Regions from separate parts of the Homo sapiens genome. Here region 2 is linked to region 1. Evidence: fine-mapped expression QTL. Tissue or cell type: cerebellum. Region 1 holds a variant in brackets; the other region holds the start of a gene. All regions are shown on one strand. Distances are from middle to middle. Region 1 overlaps LOC107984878 (a long non-coding RNA gene). Region 2 holds the start of NUDT7 (nudix hydrolase 7).

The links. PIP is the estimated chance that this variant, and not a neighbour inherited with it, causes the effect.
Region 2: NUDT7 starts here. The variant in region 1 is fine-mapped to the expression of NUDT7 in cerebellum (GTEx, PIP 0.92).

What each region holds. Positions count from the first base shown.
Region 1 is chr16:77,747,026-77,750,046 of GRCh38, reverse strand. All of the region lies in intron 5 of LOC107984878 (a long non-coding RNA gene), which reads left to right. Among named protein-coding and RNA genes, the nearest start is that of NUDT7, 26 kb to the right of the region's middle. The variant C/G (reference allele first, on the strand shown) is at 1,405.
Region 2 is chr16:77,720,768-77,723,527 of GRCh38, reverse strand. It overlaps NUDT7 (nudix hydrolase 7), which reads right to left and starts at 1,014. Exons shown (of 4, transcript NM_001105663.3): 1 at 911-1,014. The coding sequence starts at 945. RefSeq lists a silencer at 1,039-1,168 and an enhancer at 882-1,176.

The DNA.
Region 1 (3,021 bases):
TCCTAGTGTCCTGGCCACACATGAGTCATCTAGAGCCACTCTGTCCAGTAGAAATATACTGTAAGCCATGTATGTAAATTTAAATTTTCTAGTAGCCACATTCAAAAAAGTACTAAGAAACAGGATAAATTAATTTTCACCCTATATTTAACCCAACATCTCTAAAACATTATCATTTCACCATGTAGCCAATAGTAAGTCTTTGAAATCCAGTGTGTATTTGACTCCTACAGCATCTCAATTTGGACTAGCCACATTACAGGTGCTCTGTAGCCAGGGGTGTCTTGTGACAGCTTCACAGTTATCTCATGGGCTAGCCCAGACCCAAAGGCTTCTCCAGGAATGTTGATTCAGACTTTGATACATTTGCTTTAGCTTCTGTTTACTGGACCAACAAAGAAGAGGTGCAAAGGACACATATGTTATCAAAGACATCAGTGAGTTGACTTGGGTCTCCATTGTCCCTCTTTGTTCCTTATAGAACCTAAAGGCAGTCTATAGAGGAGTCATGGGGGCAACTGTGGTGGGGGAGAGGTGAGAAGAGCCAAGCAAGCAGTAATCTGTCCCCCTCACATACTTAACTGTCAGAGCAGTTTTACTTCTATATGTGGCAGGCAGGCCAGGCATGGCGGCTTATGCTTGTAATACTAGCACTTTGGAAGGCTCAGGTGGGAGGATTGCTTGGAGCCAGGAGTTTGAGACCAGCCTTTGCAACATAGCAGGACCTTGTTTCTATTTATAAAATAAAATATAATAAACATGATGTGGCAGACAATGAGTTTCCCATCATCCTCTTCCTTGTTAGCCGGGTCTGCCTCTCACAGTGGAGGAGAAAATGTCAGATGCCTATTTTCCTAATTTTTCTTGCAATTAGCATATGGGCTTAATCTGTCCAATGGGTCATATAGCTAGTGATGAGAGGAGACTGGGTTTTCTGTCTTCAGTCTTTCCTACCATACCATATTGCACTTCCAGAAGACTCTACATGTGGATAGGTCCATTCTAAGTTAAGAAAGAATAGAACCTAAGGTCCCCATAGTGTAAAAGGGTGTGAGAAAAGAGAAAAGAGAAGGATATAAAGACGTGTGTTTGTGATATGTTAGGACATTTTCCAGTGAAAGTTATAGAACTCTTTCTAAGCTTGCTCAAGCACGTTAGGGAATTTAACTACGAAGGGTGGGAGCATTTCATGGAAACCATGGAAACATCCGGGTCTCAAGAACAAACATCCAGGGATTCTAATGCCTTCACAACACACGACTGACTTTCATTGCTCTTCCATTCTGGTCATTGACTTTGTTCTCCTCTCTTGTTGCAGACAAGCTTTCTCTGCTTCCCAGGGCAAATGGTGGAACACAAACACCCACATATGCTCTCTTCCGGAGGGCAGGCAGACAGACTCTG[C/G]TGTTGCTTGGTACTAATCCCAAGGGAATTACTGAGGGACTAAATCTGATTAACTGAGTTTATGCTGGGAGGTCAGCAATGTCCTGTTTCCATGGTAATCCCAAGACAGAGGGCAGAGCTATTTCTCAAAATGAAGAGATGTTTCAGAAGGGGGCTGTGTAGTTTCCTAGGGCTGTCCTAACAATTTGCCACAAACTTGGTAGCTTAAAACAACCGAAATTTGTTATCTCACGGTTCTGAAGGCCAGAAATCTGAAATCAAGGCGTTGGCAGCATCACCCTCCCTCCAAAGGCTGTGGGGAGGACCCTTCCTTTCCTCTTCCAGCTTCCGGTGGCTCCTGGTGTTCCTTGGCTCGCGGCAACATAACTCTAATCTCTGCCTCTGTCTTCACATGGCTTCTTCCCTGTGTCTCTTGCAACTGTGTGTCTCAAATTTCCCTCTTTTTTTATTTATAAAGACACCAGTCATTGGATTTAGGGATTACCGTAAATCTAGGATGATCTCATTTCAAGGTCTTTAACTTAACTACCTCTGCAAAGATCTTATTTCCAAATAAGCTCACATTCACAGGCATTGGAGTTAGGATTTGGACATATCTTTTCGGGACCACTATTCAATTCACTACAGGGGGCTAAGATGGGTTAATATATGTTTGTAACAGGTTGAGAGTTCTAGCAAAATGTTCCCACTATCTTCAGTTTATCATTTAGCCTGATATTAGACCATACAGATTTATAGTCAGAAAAAATAACGTAGGCAAATTTTCAGAATGCTGTTTGGGATCCGTGAAATATAGCTGAAACTGAAGGCTGATGGAAGAAGATGAAATGAGACTAGAGTGAAGAAACACGTGAAGAAAGTGAGGAGAAGAAAATAATCGGAAGGAAAACTTCAAGTTTCACATAAATGATAAGTGAAAAAGAGAAAAAAATTGACACAGAGATGTCATTGACATCCATGATGAAGTAGAGAGTAAGGGCTTGAAGATTTAAAATGAAAATTGAGGAAAGTTATAGTTGAGGAAATATTAAACCAAGTCTACACCTATAAAATTAAAATTTATGGGCTTGAGTATGAGATCTTTAAGAAGGATAAATTGCTTCAGGAAATATTCTTCTTCCAGTTGTATCTGATGAAATCCCTGACACGACAACTACTGCTTAGAGCAAAGACATATTTCTACCATTATTGGCCAACTAACTTTAAACTCTGACTTCTTGGGCTCACTCATCAGTATGTACATGGGCCAAAATATTTCCCAAGCATATGTTACCTTCTGGCATTGCTCAAAGTTTTTTGAAAATCGAATGGACTTTAGATCCGGTATTTAAGTAGATCATACAAGTCATAAGCCACTGAATTAGGGGCCACCTATGGGTTTGCCATTGATCCTTGGTCCATTCATTTGAGGATAGGGGAACTCAGAGTGAGGGGTCTTATGGTGCATGGATCTGTCCCTTCCAGGGTTAGGTCTGGAATAAACACAGAGATACACATGTATTATACAGATATGCAAAGGAATGCAATGAAGTGGTGTCCATGCTATTAACATAAAGTAAGGGGTAGTTGAAGAAGTGTGCATGGAGAAATTGGCTCATAAATTCTGAGTTGTGTTCA
Region 2 (2,760 bases), 26 kb after region 1:
ATTAAATGATGCAGTTCATATACTGTGGCTGGCACACAGCTGGTGCTCAGGGAATGGTAACCACTGTCATAAATCTCCCCATCATTAGATAAGCAGTTGTTTGCAGGAGGTATTTGCTATTTTTTGCCTCTTTCTAGGTGGCAGGGTGCTCACCAGATGTGGTTGGGTAACGGCAGTGTATTTCAAAGACCAAATGGCCTGAAAAAAATCAGTGAATGCTGGCACAGGGATTGCACAGTGCATCTGGATGCACGCAGGCCAGCCTCCAGAAAAGGAAACTGTGGGCTGGTGGCTTTTAACCACCCGGAAACCACAGAACTGACCAGACAAACCAGCCAAAGTAAAAGGCTGCAAAAACGTTATCTGTCCACTTTAGGGGCTGGCCGCTGGAATAATCACCAAGGTATCAACAGCAGTAGCAGCCACCCCGTTCTGAGCATGGTCTCAATTTTGACGTTTCTCATTTTATCCTCACAACAGCCCGGCAAGTGATCACAGGGTCACCTCCAGGCTCAGAGAGTTTACGAAACTGACAGACCCAAGGTCACAACTGAAAGTAGCCACCGGGGGACTTGAATCCGGGGCTGCCTGCTGCGGGTCTGTGCCACTGTCGGGGGTCCTGGGGTCCAACTCTGGAGACGCGGATTGCAGAACAGCCAAGCCGGCTGGGAAGGGGAGCAGCGTGTATGTAAACCATACTGGCTTAAGCCGGCTCTGTTCCTGGCCAGAGCAGTGCAAAGGTTCGGGGACCCTGCGGGTTGCTGGAGGCGAGTGCTCCCCCATCCGGCGCTCGCAGGTGGACTGGCGGGAGCTGCAAAATCAGTCCCGGCCAAAAGGCCCCGGTGGCCTCCGCTACGATCAAGGCCGGGCCTGACCAAGCTCGGGGTGCCAGGGCCCGGAAAGCCTTTACCTGACTGGCTCCTCGGGAAGACCAAGTCGTGACATTGCCCTGGGGAATGTTTGTTTCCGGGCGGACTCCTCGGAGCTGCTCGGTCGGTCGCGCTTGCGCAGAGCAGCTCTGGGCTTGGGAGCGGCCTAAAGCCAGAGAGAGGGGCGGGGCTTAGAGCACGAGGCGGGGTGGTGTCTGGGGCGGAGACAGGGGGCGGGGCGGTGCGAGATCTGGGATCGGAGGCCGGGATCGGGGCGGGGCGGGGCTTATAGCCAGAGGCGGGACTTGAGGTGGGGAGAGGCGCGGGGCGGGACTTAGGGCCGGGTGTTCCTGGTTGCTCAAAGCAGTTTCTGCCGGGCTCCTTGGGCTTCTATGGAAGCAAGAGGTATAGGAGGAGTTGTGGAATTTAGAGCTGGAAGAGTTAAAAAAAAAAAAAATACAGTGTTGGTGAGGTGATAATATTTTACACTCGCATTCGCTGTTGCTGGAAGGTTAAGGTGATTCATTCAACTTTTTGGAACTGCTGTCAGCACCTGTTCACCGACCACCTGTATGCACTGGGTGCAGATCCCACAGCTAGCGAAAAGACACGTGGAGCTCACAGTCAAATGGTAGAAACATAAATTAATCACACAGGGCTGGATGCAGTGGCATATGCTTGTAATTCCAACACTTTGGGAGGCCAAGAGGGGAGGATCACTTGAATCCAGGAGTTCGAGCCCAGCCTGGGCAACATGGCGAAACCCCATCTCTACAAAATAAAAATAAAAAATTAGCCAGGCGTGGTGGCACACACCTGTGGTCCCAGCTACTCAAGAGGCTGAGGTGGGAGGATCGCTTGAGCCCAGGAGGTCGAAGCTGCAGTGAGCCGTGATAGCACCACTGCACTCCAGCCTGACAGAGGTAGACCGTCTCAAAAATAAGAAGAAGAAGATAAGAAGTTTTTAATGCAAAAAAAAAAAAAAAAAAAAATCACACTGATAAAGCAGTGGCCTTTGGTCCTTCTAGAGCGTGTGAAGGAGAAATGTGACCCAATTAGGAGACAGAAGAGGCTTGGTAGAGGAAATAGAAGTGCAGCTCATCTTGAAAGCAGTAGTTCTCAAAGTGTGGTCCTCAGACCAGCAGAATCAGGATCACTTTGGTCCTGTTAAAAATGTGGACTCTGGGCCAGGCGCTGTGGCTCACACCTGTAATCCCAGCACTTTGGGAGGCCAAGTCGGGTGGATCACCTAAGGTCAGGAGTTTGAGACCAGCTTGGCCAACATGGTGAAACCCCATCTCTACTAAAAAAACAAAAATTAGCCAGTGGCAGGCGCCTGTAATCTCAGCTACTAGGAGGCTGAGGCAGGAGAATCGCTTGAACCTGGGAGGCGGAGTTTGCAGTGGGCCGAGATCGCGCCATTGCACTCCAGCCTGGGCAAAAAAAAGCGAAACTCTGTCTCAAAAACAAAACAAAACAAAACAACAACAACAACAACAACAAAAACCAAGAAAGAAAGAAAGGAAAGAAAGAAAAGAGAAAAGAAAAGAAAAGAAAAAAGACGAAAAGAAAAGAAAAGAAAAGAAAAGGTGGACTTTGGGGCCCATGTCACAACTGCTGAATCAGAAGCCAGGTGTCAGGCCCAGTGATCTGTGCTGTAAGGGGATTCTGATGCTCTGTGCGGGATAGAGGACATAAATGAGGAAAAAGGCAAGGGAGAGTGTTCAAGGAAGAGGGCAAAGTTTGTGCAAAGACAGCAGAAAGGGGCTGGAGAACAGTGTGTGTGAGGGAGCCTGGTGCGAGCTGAGAATCCAGGGGTCAGTGTAGGGCTGACTTCTCCCTTACAGGCACAGGACACACACAGTAATTTTAGGGACCTGTGAAAATGTTT